Regions from separate parts of the Homo sapiens genome. Here region 1 is linked to region 2. The links come from fine-mapping of genetic effects on gene expression. Tissue or cell type: transverse colon. Region 2 holds a variant in brackets; the other region holds the start of a gene. All regions are shown on one strand. Distances are between the middles of the regions.

Region 1 (8,134 bases), 58 kb before region 2:
AAGCATTAGAATAAAAGCCAAAACACTAACGATACTAGAATGCAAAGCTACAAAGAGGCTGGTCTCTAATGACACAGTTGCGTAGCTGACCCAATGCTAGAAATTACCTCTAGACTTTCTTTTACTTGAGAAAATAAACCCTCTTTATTTAAACCGTTAGCCAAATGCAATCTCAATCTCTCTTCTTTTGATAGTAACATCTCAATTTACCCTCGAGGAATCACTCTTCCCCGGCAGTCACTCCTGTGGTTTGGGAGAGGCTGATCCCATCCCTCTAGCTGTGGAGTGGGTACTTGACCTGAACCAGTCCAAGTCTTTTTTTTGAGACAGGGTCTTGCTCTGTTACACAGGTTGGAGTGCAGTGGTGTGATCATAGCTCATCACAGCCTCGAACTCTGGGACTTGAGCAATGTTGGCCTCCCAAAGTGCTGGGATTACAGGCATGAGCCACCACACCTGGCCCTTTTTACCTTTCTAAGCATCAGGTTTCTTTTATATCTTTTTTTTGTTTGTGTGAGACAGGGTTTTACTCTGTTACCCAGACCAGAGTGCAGTGGTGCGATCTCGGCTCACTGCAACCTCTGCCTCCCTGACTCAAACAATCCTCCTACCTCACCCTCCTCCCTAACAAATGGAGCCACAGACATGTGCCATCATGCCTAATTTTTTATATTTTTGGTAGAGACGGGGTTTCACCATATTGCCCAGGCTGGTCTTGAACTCCTGTGCTCAAGCAGTCCTGCCGCCTTGGCCTCCCAAAGTGCTGGGATTACAGGCGTGAGCCACTGTGCCCATCCCTAAGCATCAGGTTTCTTAACGATAAGAAGGAGTAAAGGTACTAACCTCAAGAAGTTGTTAGAAGAATTAATACATGTCTGTACTAAGCCCTACAGAAACATACTAACTAGTCACTGATATTATTTCTTTATAATTTTTTTTGAGATGAAGTTTCACTCTTGTCACCCAGGCTGGAGTGCAATGGTGCAATCTCGGCTCACTGCAACCTCCGCCTCCCGGGTTCAGGCAATTCTCCTGCCTCAGCCTCTCCAGTAGCTGGGATAACAGACATGTGCCACTATGCTGGGCTAATTTTTTGTATTTTAATAGAGATGGAGTTTCACCATATTGGCCAGGCTGGTCTCAAACCCCTGACCTCAGGTGATCTGCCTGCCTCGGCCTTCCAAAGTGCTGGGATTACAGGTGTGAGCCACCATGCTCAGCCTGATACCCTTTTATTATCATTGAACATGGCCACTAGAATGTAAGCCTCTGAAAACAGGAGATGTCAAAGTCTCTGTATCCCCCATAGAGCTATGCAAGCCTATCACAATTCTCCGTACATAACAGGTCCTCTATAAATGTTTGCTAAATAAATGAATCTGCATAAGTTGTAGTTCGTTTTTCCCCTATCTAGCTAGGCAACCACAGCCGGACGCTTCAGAATCATGAGATGCAAATAAAAGGCCTAGGAGAGGAATTCATTTTTCACCCACAGTCACGCTGCCAAAAGAGGAAGGATGTTGGTTATGTAACAGTGGAAAGGAAAAGAAACAGACGAGATACTTACCAGCAAGGTGTCCAGTGCATCAATTAGAGTCAGAGAAAAACTGCAAAAGGACAGAAATCCCAGCCGCTTAGTAAGAAAATCAAATACCAGATATTATGGCTGCCCTAGATCTGATCCCCCTAAAACTAAATGAGGCAAAGTAATGCCTCTGCCTGTCCCACTTACAGTCACAACAGAGAAACCACAGTGAAAATCGCAGGTATTCTCTGACCCACTTAATGCACCTGGGAGGGTTGGCTGATGTAGCTCAATTGTAATTAAATACATCACCTATAGTCTGGCATTCTCCTCTACCATTGGGAGGCAGTATAAGATTGCAGCTTAAAGCACAGGCCTTTCACCAATTTTCACCTCTAGGAATTTAATTCACAGTGAACAGCTGTTTGAGAGTGTTCATGGCAGTATTGCTTAGAACAGCAAGAGGCTGGAAAGAACCCAACTGTCCACCCATTAATGGGTGATTAAACTGTGTTATAAACAGTGCAAAACTATGAGTTATCAAAAAGATTGTTATCAAGACTTCTATGTGCTGATGGAAAGACATTCGAATTGTTTTTAATGAAAAAGTCAGGGTGGTTTAGTATGTTTCCATCTGTTTCAAAAAGACATGCTGACAGAAAGCAGACAGCAATTGTTAGGGTCAGTGGTGGTGCAGGGATGAACTATAAAGGGCCACAAGGGAACTTTTTAAAGTGACAGAAGTGTTTCATATCTTGACTGTGATGGTGGTCACTTCAAACGAGTGTAGGCTGGGCACAGTGGCTCATGCCTGTAATCCGCCAGCACTTTGGGAGGCCTAGGTGGGTGGATCACCTGAGGTCAGGAGTTCAAGACCAGCCTGGCCAAATGACAAAACCCCGTCTCCACAAAAAAATTAGCCGGGTGTGGTGGTGGGCTCCTGTAATCCCAACTACTTGGGAGGCTGAGGCAGGAGAATCGCTTGAAGCCAGGAGGCGGAGTTTGAAGTGAGCCAAGATCACGCCATTGCACTCCAGCCTGGGTAACAAGAGCGAAACTCCATCTCAAAAAAAAAAAAAAAAAAAAAAGAGTGTATTTTATTATATGTAAATTATGCCTTTAAGAAGTTCATTTTAAAAAGATACACATACACACATCTATATATATAATGGTATAAACCAAGAATATTTCTGGACAGATACAAAGGAAAGTTAATAGTTGGAATTCTAGGGTATGGGAGATATTTATTGTATATAATCTTTTACCACTTGAATTTGCCATTTGTATTTACTTTGTTTCAACTTAAAAAAATAAAAACCATCACAAGTTTTGAGTTTAATTTCTCCCGACCTTAGCACATTCGTGTGTAAAACAGGGATAATGGCACCTAACTCGTAGGGGTATTAAGATACTGAGCTGAGATCTGAATGACAAGCAGCAGCCAGTGATGGGAGGAAAATGGGGAGTGTATTTCAGGCACGGGGCACACCAACTACAAAGACTTAAGTTTTAGGAGTGTCACACTCCTTCCTGGATCTGAATGCCCACCTACATAATGAAAGGGGTGGGTTTTCTAATTCTTGGAGCCCTTCCACGGTATCTCGTTACTCCAGAAATTGCCTATGTCCCCACAGCTGATGCCTGTTACTGCTGGGGCTGAGCTCAGCGATCCAGCCCACCCGGCTAATCCAGGACTTTTTTTTTCACTGCGAGAGGCTAAGTGGATCCTGGAGGTGATAGTAAGAATTGCGGGGAGCGCGGCTCTAGCTCAGCTGGGAGCTTTCTGGTGCCGGTGAGGAGACCATGAAGCCACCAGCCCCAGCTGACCCGCCCGCCGAGGCCCAGAGAGTCAGACCCTGGCCGCCCCTTGCCCCTCCGCTCGCACTACCTGCCCCAGGTGTCGTGCCCGTCACAGGTGAGAGGTCGCAGCTCATCGAAGGGAAAGGCATTCTCCAGGTAGCTGTCGTAGGCGTGGTAGAACATGGCCTTGACTCGCTCCCTGGGTGGGGGACGAGAAATCAGGCATGGGGCAAGAACACAAAAACAAGCGGGGGAAGAACAAGATACAGGGCGGAAAGTGGGAATCACTAGCTGATTTCTCCCTGGGACCTAGCGGCTGTGTCGGAGCAAGTCGGGGTCTGGGATGGACGGAAAGGGAAAGGACCGGGTTCACGCTTCCCATTCCCCAACTGCGAAAGGGCGGGTCACAGTTCACCTGTAGTGGGCGGGATCTGGCGCGGAGCCGTCGGGACCTGGCGCACCATGGTGCTGAGGCAGCAGCGCGCACAGGAGGCCGAGCGGGATGAGCAGCCGGAAAGGCATAGAGCTCGTGTCCTCTCAGCGCCCCCGCAGCAGCAGCAGCCACTGCAACCAGTTCATCCTGGGAGCTGCTGCGGGTTCTTCCGGGAATCCGCGCCACTGCGCCTGCGCGCTGAGAAATCAGCCTCTCACTTCCGGACTACAAGCCCCTGAATGCAATGGGCAGCGAAACGCGGCCGAAGAGCAACTTCGGATGTACGGTTTCGGCAACACTGATCAACGTGTCTTAAAGTCAGTGGCTGTTGTTACTACTGTTATTAATTAATGTTTTAATAATAACAGCTAGCATGTATTGAGCACTTATTGTGTACTAGTACTGTACGGAGCATTTAAAATGCATTCTCTCATTCATTTTTTTCAACAACCTTATTAAGTATGAAGGCAGGGTAAGCATGAGAAATGTTCAGCCTTTACCATTATTACCTAGCAGGACAAGCCGCAGACAAAACTCCTCAGACACCGGGTTAAAGAAGGAAGGAGCTTTATTCGGCCGGGAGCGTCAGCTGACTCACTTCTCAAAAACGGAGCTCCCCGAGTGAGCAATTCCTGTCCCTTTTAAGAGCTTACAACTCTAAGGGGGTCCGCGTGAGAGGGTCGTGATTGATTGAGCAAGCAGGGGGTACGTGACTGATTACCGGTGCACCGGTAATCAGAACGGAACAGAACAGGACAGGGATTTTCACAATGCTTTTCCATACAATGTCTGGAATCTATAGATAATATAACCGGTTAGGTCAGGAGGGGTCGATCTTTAATTACCAGGCCTGGAATGCATCGCCGGGCTGTCTGACTACTGATTTCACTTCTGTCTTTCTTTTAACTCCTACATTTTCTTTGAGGCAGAAATTGGGCATAAGACAATATGAGGGGTGGTCTGCTCCCTTATTTAGGGATATTGAGTTTCCCAAACCAGTTACTTGTTGATTGTATAAGACACAACTCACATTTATTTGTCCAAAACTTCCACTCTTTTTTTTTTAAAACCTCTTGCATTTTCCGATGCTGTCACTCTTGAGGTTTCCTGAAATCCCGTCAGTTCTAGGAATTCATGACACTTCTCTCCTCCCAATTTGGGATGTGGTTACACAATCATGGTCCCTTCAGTCTCCATCTCAAACCGGAAGCTTTACCCCTGTCAGCCCTGTAGAATGTCTTGGGTAAGAATGAATACCCTGGTTGGGCGCGGTGGCTCACGCCTGTAATCCCAACACTTTGGGAGGTTGAGGTGCGTGGATCACCTGAGGTTAAGAGATAGAGACCAACCTGGCCAACATGGTGAAACCCCGTCTTTACTAAAAATACAAAAATTAGCCAGGGGTGGTGGCGGGTGCCTGTAAATCCCGGCTACTCGGAAGGCTGAGGCCGGAGAATCGCTTGAAACCGGAAGGCGGAGGTTGCAGTGAGCGAGGATCGCGCCACTCCACTCCAGCCTGGGCAAAACAGCAAAACTCCATATCAAAAAAAAAAAAAAAAAAAAAAAAAAAAAGACAAATGACTACCCTGGGGCACTATAGCTTTCAGGAGGTTTGTGATCCATTTCTCCATTCCCCTTATTCCCAAGTTTCTAAAATTTGGTCAGCACCTTAGACCACAGCAACACCCATGACTTTGGTCAGTGTGACATGCGGTAGAACCAACACTGGATTTGAAGTCAGATCTAGGATCCAGTTAATTACAACTCTGTCACTCATCTATAACCTGTGTATGTGACCCTCTCCTTCTCTGGGGCTAGCATCCTTGTCTATAAATAATGAGGAGTTTGAACAAATGGATCTTTAAGATCCTTTTCGGTCGAGCTTTCTATGATTCTAGGATTGGCTATCTCTTATTTGCTGAAAAAGTCAGATGGAAGTGATAGCTCAGTTTGTTGAGCCAGAGTGCAGCCAGGCCTCCCAAAGTGCTGGGATTACAGGCATAAGCCACTGTACCCAGCCTGGGATGTTTTTAGAAACTCTTCTTGGCCGGGTGCAGTGGCTCACGCCTGTAATCCCAGCACTTTGGGAGGCCAAGGCGGGCGGATCACGAGGTCAGGAGTTCAAGACCAACCTGGCCAATATGGTGAAACCCTGTCTCTACTAAAAATACAAAAATTGGCCGGGAGTGGTGGCAGACGCCTGTAGTCCCAGCTACTCAGGAGGCTGAGGCAGGAGAATCGCTTGAACCCGGGAGGTGGAGGTTGTAGTGAGCCAAGATCAAGATCAGGCCACTGCACTCCAGCCTGGGAGACAGAGCGATACTCTGTCTCAAAAAAAAAAAAAAAAAAGAAACTCTTCTTGGGGCTTCCAAATGGAAGGGAAAGGAGATGACAGTAAGCTGAGACCTGGATAACAACACAGGAGCACTGTATTCGTTTCCTGTGATTCCTGCAACAAATTACCACAAACCAAGTGGCTTAAAGCAACAGAAATTTATTCTCTCGCAGTTTGGGAGGTCAGGAGCCTGAAATCAATTTCACTGGGCTAAAATTAAGTTATTGACAGGGCCACACCCACTCCAAAGGCTCTAAGGGATAATCCGTTCCTTGCCTCTCTAGATTCTCCTGACTGCTGGCATTCCTTGGCTTATGGTTGTATCACTCCAGTATCTGCCCGTGCCTTCATATCGCCTTCTCTGTGGATGTGTCACATCTCCTTCTGCTTTTCTCTTATAAGGACATTTATAATTGCATTTAGGACCCCCCCCGCGCCCCCCCCAACCCAGATAATACAGGATAAACTCCCATTCCAAGATTTTTAACTTAATCACATCTAGGGGGAAAAAAAAAAAAAAACACCATTTTTCCAAATAGAGAAACATTTACAGTTTCCAGAGATTAGGACCTGGACTTTAGGTGGCTGTTTCCAGCCTAGCGCAGGGACTAAATATTTTTCAGACCTGGGCCTTTCCCTGTGACGAAATTCACCTTCTCCATATTATAAATCCTATAGCTTATCTTTTTGTCTCCCATTCAAAATTCTAGTGTGGATAAAACTTTTGCAGGAAGGGTGGGTTCAGGTTGCCTGGATTTGGTAACGATAGGTCTCTCTTTATGAGCAAGATTGAAACACTCATGATTTTCCTTTATATTCTTTTTCTAGCTTGATGTCATTCTCCACACTGTCACTGAACAAATAAAACCATGACTTACGTTTTCACAATTCATGTGACTATATGTTCTCTAATGAGAATAAAAAAATTGTTTTACCCTCTGGAAAGTATCAGGACTCTTCTTTCTCTCACTCTGTGTTTATGATATTGGATTCTAGAAGGTTATGACCCACCAGTGAAGTGTCACACTTGAGCATTTACTTGTGAAGAGACTCAGGGTAAGTTGCCTACCTCTCTGAGACTCAATTTCCTATTGTAAAATACAGAAATTGATGAGGCCATAAAGGAATTCTGGGAATTAAATGGGATAATGAAAGTGAACATTCTCAGCACAGTGACTGGTATATATTAAATTCTTGATACATATTAATTCTCTTCCCTGCCTCCCCAACTCTTCTTTTTTTTTTAAGGCAGGGCAGTTGTTTCCATTTACTGAGCATCTGCCCCGAGTCATCCAAGGTGTTATAGGCAATAGTTCCTACCCTCAAAAGTTTGAGGCACAGTGCTGAGCATATAACTAAGATTCCAAAATAATCAAGTCATAGTCCTTTCCCTTGAAGTGCTTGCAATTTTGTTAGAAGGGGAAGATGTCAATTGGAGAATACTTGGAATCATAGGGTGTTCAAGTCTTCCCTGTGGGTGAATAGAGTTTGGAGGGAGCTCAGATCACATCAGTATCTGAGGCCAATGTCCTCGGACTCTGTGTTCAGTGGAACAAGACTTGGACTGGTTGTCGGAAACCCTTGGTCTTGTTACTTGTTTATCCACTATCTCTGTGTGATCTCGGGCAAGTCATTTTCCCTTTTGGGGACTCAGTTTCCATATCTGGAAGATGAAAGAGTGAGACTATCTCTCAGCACAAGGAAAATATTAACAGATCCATACAGTTATTGCAAAAAATCAGAAAACAGAATTCAACACACATCGACTGCACAAATTTCCCCCAGAAACATCCATGAAGCAGAATAAAACAGTGGGACAGCATTCCAAATGGAATTTGACTATTTGCCAACTAAACAAGGAAGAGGAGGGGGATGGGGAGGGGGACAAGAAGAAGAAGGAGAAAATAGTCACGTGTATTGATAATAGCGAACATTTACATAGCAAGTAATGTTCTTTGTACTTTACATCCATCAACACCATTAATCCTTACCACAACCCTCTGAGAAAGTGTCATTATCACCATTTTATAAACCAAAAACC
Region 2 (8,134 bases):
TTCACTTTACTGAAGTGGTCTAGAACTGAACCTGCAATATTTCCAAGGTATGCCTGTAGTTGTGAGATGTCAGTGTTTTACTTGAAGTGTTAAAACATTGATTTTAAGTTGACTGTTAAAATTAGGTATGTGTATTATTATCCCTAGATCAACAGCTAAAAAAAAAAAACCACAAAAGATATAGACAACCAATATATTAAATTGGAATATAAAACATATTCAAATAATCCAAAATATAACAGGAAAGGGGACATTGAGAGGCAAAAAAATGGAGGAGACAAGCAGAAAAATAACAAATTGTAGACCAAAATCCACTCTTATCAATAACTACATTAAATGTAAATGGTCTTTAAAAATGTAAATGGTCTAAACACACCAATTAAAAGACAAAGATGGCTGGGTGCGGTGGCTCACGCCTGCAATCCCAGCACTTTGGGAGGCCGAGGTGGGCTGATCACCTGAGGTCAGGAGTTCAAGACCAGCCTGGCCAACATGGTGAAACCCCACCTCTACTAAAAATACAAAAATTAGCCGGGCAAGGTGGTGCATGCCTGTAATCCCAGCTACTCGGGAGGCTGAGGCATGAGAATCGCTTGAACCTGGGAGGCGGAGGTTGCAGTGCACTGAGATCATGCCATTGCATTCCAGCCTGGGCGGCAGAGCAAGATTCCATTTCAAAAAAAAAAGACAAAGATCATCAGATTGGAAAAAGAAAAAAACAAGACCCAACTATATGCTATTACATTTTATTTTATTTTTACTTCTCAAATGTTAAGGAAACCTATTTTAAATATAAAGATATAAATATAGGGAAATTACATAATGATAAAAGGGTCAATTCACCAAGAAGATAAACACTGAAATATAATATGCAACTAACAAAGATCCAAAATAAATGAAGCAAAAATTGATAGAACTAAAAGAGATATGGAAAAATCCACAGTCATAACTGGGAGACTCAATAAGTCCATTCTCAATGACTGATAAACAAATAGATGGAAATCAAAAAGGATATATCAAACCTGGATAACGTTATCAACTGGTTTAATATAATGGACATTTACAAAAAACACTCTACCCAAGAACAACAGAATACATATTCTTTCCAAGTGCCCACAGAACATATACCCAGATAGATCATATTCTGGGTCATAAAATAAACTAACAATTTTTAATAAAACCACATAAAGCATGTTCTCTGGCTATACCAAAATTAAACAAGAAATAAATAATAGAAAACTCCCCCAGCCTAACCAACATGGTGAAACCCCGTCTCTACTAACAATACAAAAATTAGCTGGGCATCGTGGCGGGTGCCTATAATCCCAGCTACTCGGGAGGCTGAGGCAGGAGAATTGCTTGAACCTGGGAGGTGGAGGCTGCAGTGAGCTGAGATCACGTCATTGCATTCCAGTCCAGGTGGTAGAGCAAGATTCCATTTCCAAAAAAAAAAAAAAGACAAAGATTATCGGATTGGAAAAAGAAAAAAACAAGACCCGACTATATGCTATCAGCAAGAAAGCTATTTTATTTTATTTTTACTTCTCAAATGTCTTATGGTTTAAGGAAATCTATTTTAAATATAAAGATATAAATATAGGGAAGTTACATAATGATAAAAGGGTCAATTCACCAAGAAGATAAACACTGAAATATAGTATGCAACTAACAAAGATCCAAAATAAATGAAGCAAAAATTGATAGAACTAAAAGAGACATGGAAAAATCCACAGTCATAACTGGGAGACTTCAATAACTCTGTTCTCAATAACTGATAAACAAATAGATGGAAATCAAAAAGGATATATAAAACCTGGATAACATTATCAACTGGTTTAATATAACGGACATTTATAAAACACTCTACTCAAGAGCAACAGAATACATATTCTTTCCAAGTGCCCACAGAACATATACCCAGATAGATCATATTCTGGGTCATAAAGTAAACTTTAACAATTTTTAATAAATTAAAACCACACAAGGCCGGGCGTGGTGGCTCACACTTGTAATCCCAGCACTTTAGGAGGCTGAGGCAGTGGATCACCTCAGGTCGGGAGTTCAAGACCAGCCTGACCAACATGGTGAAACCCCATCTCCACTAAAAATACAAAACTAGCCGTGCATGGTGGCACATGCCTGTAATCCCAGCTACTCGGGAGGCTGAGGCAGGAGAACCGCTTGAACCCAGGAGGCAGAGGTTGTGGTGAGCCGAGATCATCCACATAAATGGTGTTCTCTGGCTATACCAAAATTAAATAAGAAATCAATAATAGAAAACTCCCCCAGCCTGACCAACATGGCAAAACCCTGTCTCTACTAAAAATACAAAATGTCATTGCATAACATTGTATGCAATGTCTAATGTTATTAGACATAATGTTATTGCACATTTATTAGACTATAATATAGTATAAACATAACTTTTATTTATTATTGTTTTTCTTTTTAGACGAACTCTTGGGCGTGATAGTGCGCGCCTGTAATCTCAGCTATTCAGGAGGCTGAGGCAGGAGAATTGCTTGAATCCAGGAGGTGGAGGTTGCAGTGAGCTGAGATCGCACCACTGCACTCCAGCCTGGGTAACAGAACAAGACTCTGTCTCAAAAAAAAAGAAAAAAAAGAAAAAAAAGAGAACTCTCAAATATTTAGAAATTGTTAATATACTTCTAAATAATCCATGGGTCAGAGAAAAAATCTTAAAGTAAATCAGAAAATATTTGAACTGACTGAACATCAAAACAAAACATATCAAAATTTATGGGTTGCAGCTAATGCAGCGTGTACAGGAACATTTATAGCTTTACATGCCTATGATAGAAAAAAGAAAGGCCTCAAATCATACTCTAAGCTTCTACCTTAAGAAACTAGAGAAAGAACAAATTAAACCTAAATCAAGCAGAAGAAAAAGAAATTAGAAAAGCAGAATTCAATGAAATTGAAAACAGAAAAAAATAGAGAACAATCAATAAAACCAAAAGCTTTGAAAAGGTGTACAGAATTCATAAACTTTTTGACAGATTTACCAAGGAAAAGAAAGAGAGAAGACATAAATTACTAATATCAGGAATGAAAGAGGGGATGTCACTTCAGACCCTCCAGATATTAAAAGGATAATAAGAGAATATTACAAACAACTCTATGCTCATAAGTTTGACAACTTAGAGGAAATGGACCAATTTCTTGAAAGACACAAATTACCTAAACTCAGTCCAGAAGAAACAGATCAGAGAAATAGTCCTAAATGTACTAAAGAAAATTTAATTCATAGTTTAAAACCTTCCAATGTAGAGAAGAAAACTCCAGGCCCAGAAGGTTTCTTTTCTTTTCCTTCCTTCCTCCCTCCCTCCCTCCTTCCCTCCCTCCCTCCCTCCTTCCTTCCTTCCTTCTCTCTTTTCTTTCCTTTTCTCTTTTCTTTTCTTTCCTTTTCTTTCTTTTCTTTGTGGCAGGGACTCACTCCTGTTATTCAGGCTGGAGTACAGTGGTGCAATCACAGCTCACTGCAGCCAAGACTTCCACACCCAGCAAATTTTTTTGTATTTTTAGTAGAGATGGGTTTTCATCATGTTGCCCAGGCTGGTCTCGAACTCCTGGCTCAAGCAATCTGCCTGCCTTAGCTTCCCAAAGTGCTGGGATTACAGGCATGCGCCACCATGCCTGGCCCCCAAATGGTTTCACTGGGAAATTCTACCAAATGTTAAAGAAAGAAATAGTATCAATTCCACACAAACTCTTCCAGAAAATCAAAAAAACTTAGCTCATTTTATGAAGGCAGCATGGTCCTGATGCCAAAATTTGAAAAAGATAACAAGAAAACTATAGAACAATACTTCACATGAACATATACCCCAAAACTTCAACAAACTACAAACTATTAGCAAAGGAATCCAGAAATATATATATATTTTTAAAAAATAATACTTCACTACTATGTGGAGTTTATCCCAGGTAATTTAATGCTGGTGTAACATTCAAAAATAGCCAGGCATGGTGGCTCACGCCTGTAATCCCAGCACTTTGGGAGGGTGAAGCGGGCAGATCACCTGAGGTCAAGAGTTTGAGACCAGCCTGGCCAACGTGGTGAAACCCCGTCTCTACTAAAAATACAAAAATTAGCTGGGTATGGTGGTGTGCACTAGTAGTCCCAGCTACTTGGGAGGCTGAGGCAGGAGAATTGCTTGAACCCGGGAGGTGGAAGTTGCAGTGAGCTGAGATCGCACCACTGTACTCCAGCTTGGGGGACAGAGCAAGACTCCATCTCAATAATAATAATAATAATAAATAAATGAGCATAATTCACCATATTGGCAGACTAAGGAAGAAAAAAACACATGATAATCCTAACTGATGAAGAAAATGCATTAACAAAATTTAAAACCCATTCATG[A/AT]TAAAAAAAAAAAAATCTCTCAGCAAACTAGAGAAGGAAACTTCGTTAATCCAAAAATATATATATATATTGGCCGGGCGCAGTGGCTCACACCTATAATCCCAGCACTTTGGGAGGCCGAGGCAGGCGGATCACCTGAGGTCCAGAGTTCAAGACCAGCCTTACCAACGTGGAGAAACCTCGTCTCCACTAAAAATACAAAATTAGCCGGGTGTGGTGGTGCATGCTTGTAATCCCAGCTACTCGGGAGGCTGAGGCAGGAGAATTGCTTGAACCTGGGAGGTGGAGGTTGCAGTGAGCCAAGATCATGCCATTGCACTCCAGCCTGGGCAACAAGGACAAAACTCTGTCTAAATATATATATATATATATATATATATATATATATATGTATATATACACACATATATATGTACATATATACATATATCTACATATACATATATACATGTATACATATACATATGTATACATGTATATATGTATATATGTGTATGACCTCCGGTGATCCCCCCCCCAACCTCGGCCTCCCAAAGTGCTGGGATTACAGGTGTGAGCCACTGCACTTGACCGCAAATCACATTTCTAACAAAGGACTTGAATCCAGAATTTATTTTTTAACATTTTTAAAAAATTTTATTTTATTTTATTTTTGGTAGAGACAGGATTTTTGTATGTTGCCCAGGCTGGTCTCAAACTTCTGACCTCAAGTGATCCTCCTGCTCAGCCTCCCAAAGCACTAGGACTACAGGCATGAGCCACTGTGCCTGGCCTAGAATTTATAAAGAACCCTCAGTAGGGCGCAGTGCCTCATGCCTGTAATCCCAGCACTTTGGGAGGCTGAGGCAGGCGGATCACGAGGTCAGGAGTTCAAGACCAGCCTGGCCAACATAGTGAAACCTCGTCTCTACTAAAAATACAAAAAAATTAGCCAGGCATGGTGGCAGGCACCTGTAATCCCAGCTACTCAGGAGAATGAGGCAGGACAATCACTTGAACCCGGGAGGCAGAGGTTGCAGTAAGCCAAGATGGCGTCACTGCAGTCCAGCCTGGGCAACAGTGTGAGACTCTATCTCAAAAAAAAAAAAAAAAAAAAAAACTCTCAAAACTCAGAAATAAGAAAACAAACAATTTTTTAAAAAGGCAAAAGTTTTGAACAGGCACCTCACCAGAGAAGATACATGGATGGCAAATAAATATTTGAAAATATGCTCAACATCATTTGTTGGTAGGGAATTGCAAATTAAAACCACAGTAAGGTATGTCTATACACCTATTGAAATTGAAAAAAATCCCTGACAATACCAATTGTTGGTGAGAAGGCGGAACAACTGCCACTCTCATAAATTACTGGTGGGAAAACAAAATGATACAGCCCCTCTAGGTTTCTTATAAAGTTAAACACACACTTACCATAGGCTCCAACAATCCCTCCTAGAAATTAGCCCAAGTAAAATGAAAATTTATGTTCATACCAAAACCTGTACGTGAATGTTTACAGAAGCTTTATTCATAATTGCCAAAACTAGAAACAACCTAAATATTCCTCAACTGGGAAGTGGAGTAACAAACTGTGGTACATCCATACAATACACTACTACTCAGCAATGAAAAGGAATTGACTACTGATACACTCAACAACATGGATGAATCTTAAATCCATTATGCCAAGTGAAAGAAGCCAAATTCAAAATACAACATATTGTATGGTTCCATTTTATATGACAGTCTGGAAAAGAAAAAACTATAGGAATAGAGAACATATCAGTGTTGCCAGGGCTTAAGGGTAGGGAAGGCTTTGACTACAAAGGGGTAACAAAAGGGAATTTGGGAAGGTGATTAACTGTTTTATTTTTTTGTTTGTGTGTGGTGGTGTTTACATAATTCTTTGCATTTGTCAAAACTCACAGAACTCTACACCAAAATGTAAATTTTACTGAATGTAAATTACAATTAAATTATATGTATGCAAATCTATTATGTGTATGTTTGTGTATATATATATATATATATATACACATATGAATATTTTTAAAAGCTTTTTCCCCTCATATTACTATCAAGTCATATCTCACAGATTTTGTATTTGTACAATTATTCTTTCTTGAGCCTGAAATTAGTTAGGACTGTTTTGTTTTGTTTTTTTCTTGAGATGGAGTCTTACTCTGTTGCCCAGGCTGGAGTACAGTGGTATGATCTCGGCTCACTGCAACCTCTGCCTCCCAAGTTCAAGTGATTCTCTGGCCTCAGCCTCCCGAGTAGCTGAGACTACAGGCGCTCACCACCACACCTGGCTAATTTTCATATTTTTAGTAGAGACGGGGTTTCTCCATGTTGGTCAGGCTGGTCTCGAACTCCTGACCTCAGGTGATCTGCCTGCCTTGGCCTCCCAAAGTGCTGGGATTACAGGTGTGAGCCACCACGCCCGGTCAAGTTAGGACTGTCTTCATCTCTGTTAACCTTCCATTTCCTCTCCTTCCACAAAACCTAAACTTTATTATTATTTGAAACATAATTTTTGAGTAAGTTATTCCGTCTCAAGAAGGTCCAATTCGTGTTATTGAGAATGGTAAAATAATACACTACCTGCCCTGGGCACTTTAGTGAGAATCCATTTATTGGGTTAACTAGCAGTGACTGTGGATGGCAGTGAGCAGGCCTGGGAGTGGCCAGGACATAGGACAGATGTGCTTTGATGGGAGAGAAGGGAAGGAAAAGCCGGCAGCACAGCGATGGGAAACTAGAGGCCAGAGGTAGAGGTGGAGGGCAATGATCAGGGAGCAGAGATGACAGCATGCCAAGGACATCCTGTGCTGACTTCACAGGCTGGCTCTGGGCATAGGCCAGTCTCTTCCTGGAGCTTTCATTTTCTCTCTTCGGAATCTGTCAACTCTCTACTGCAATCTGTTCCACAGTCGTATAGCCAAAATCCTCTTGCTCTGTGTCTGTTTATTCAACAAATATTTATCTTAACTGACTCTAATCACATTGTCTCCTGTTTGTCCTGCAGTGAAGCCCTTTTACATCTGCTTATCTCTTTTGATCCAAGGGAAGGAGACTTAACCCTGACTTCCAGAGAAGGAAATAGTCTCAGAAAGGTTAAGTCATTTATCTGAAGTTGCCCTTTTAATACTGAGTACTGGACTCTCTCAGTATCCGCGTACTCTGCTGCCCCCTACCGTGAACATAGCAATAGGTTTTAAATCACAAAAACACACAGCAGAACACTACACAACACTGGAAAGACTACGACACTATAAATAGTGCTTACATTTGTTCATTTAGCAAATATTCAGCTGGACGTGGTGGCTCACGCCTGTAATCCCAGCACTTTGGGAGGCCGAGGCAGGTGGATCACTTGAGGCCAGGAGTTCAAGACCAGCCTGGCCAACATGGTGAAACCCCACCTCTAAAAATACTAAAATTAGCCGGGCATGGTGGCACGCACCTGTAATACCAGCTACTCGGGAGGCTGAGGCAGGAGAATTGCTTGAATCCAGGAGGCGGAGGCTGTAGTGAGCCGAGATCACACCACTGCACTCCAGCCTGGGTGATACAGCAAGACTCCATCCCCAAAAAATAAATAAACAAATATTAATTGAGAGCCTACTATATGCCAGAAATAAGCAGGTATTGTCCTTGTGTTCATGGAGCTTATGGTGTAGAGGGGGAGACAGAATTACACAAAATAATTACTTAATTACAGTTTGAATAAATACTATGAAGTACAAGGTGCTATATGAGGGT

Alleles and levels. Alleles are on the strand shown, and positions count from the first base shown. SD is a standard deviation of normalised expression in the study named.
For the expression in transverse colon of the gene that starts at base 3,925 in region 1, A is the high allele of the variant in region 2 and AT is the other (small effect, 0.27 SD a copy in GTEx).

The links. PIP is the estimated chance that this variant, and not a neighbour inherited with it, causes the effect.
Region 1: EDEM2 starts here. The variant in region 2 is fine-mapped to the expression of EDEM2 in transverse colon (GTEx, PIP 0.98).

What each region holds. Positions count from the first base shown.
Region 1 is chr20:35,143,412-35,151,545 of GRCh38, forward strand. EDEM2 (ER degradation enhancing alpha-mannosidase like protein 2) reads right to left here and starts at 3,925. Exons shown (of 11, transcript NM_018217.3): 1 at 3,741-3,925; 2 at 3,414-3,524; 3 at 1,568-1,607. The coding sequence starts at 3,847. MMP24-AS1-EDEM2 (MMP24-AS1-EDEM2 readthrough) reads right to left here. Exons shown (of 15, transcript NM_001355008.2): 6 at 3,414-3,524; 7 at 1,568-1,607. The coding sequence starts at 3,508. RefSeq lists enhancers at 3,107-3,710, 3,959-4,088.
Region 2 is chr20:35,201,012-35,209,145 of GRCh38, forward strand. The region is part of intron 4 of MMP24-AS1-EDEM2 (MMP24-AS1-EDEM2 readthrough); the gene reads right to left. It also overlaps a transcript of PROCR not described here. Among named protein-coding and RNA genes, the nearest start is that of MMP24, 22 kb to the right of the region's middle. The variant A/AT (reference allele first, on the strand shown) is at 4,388.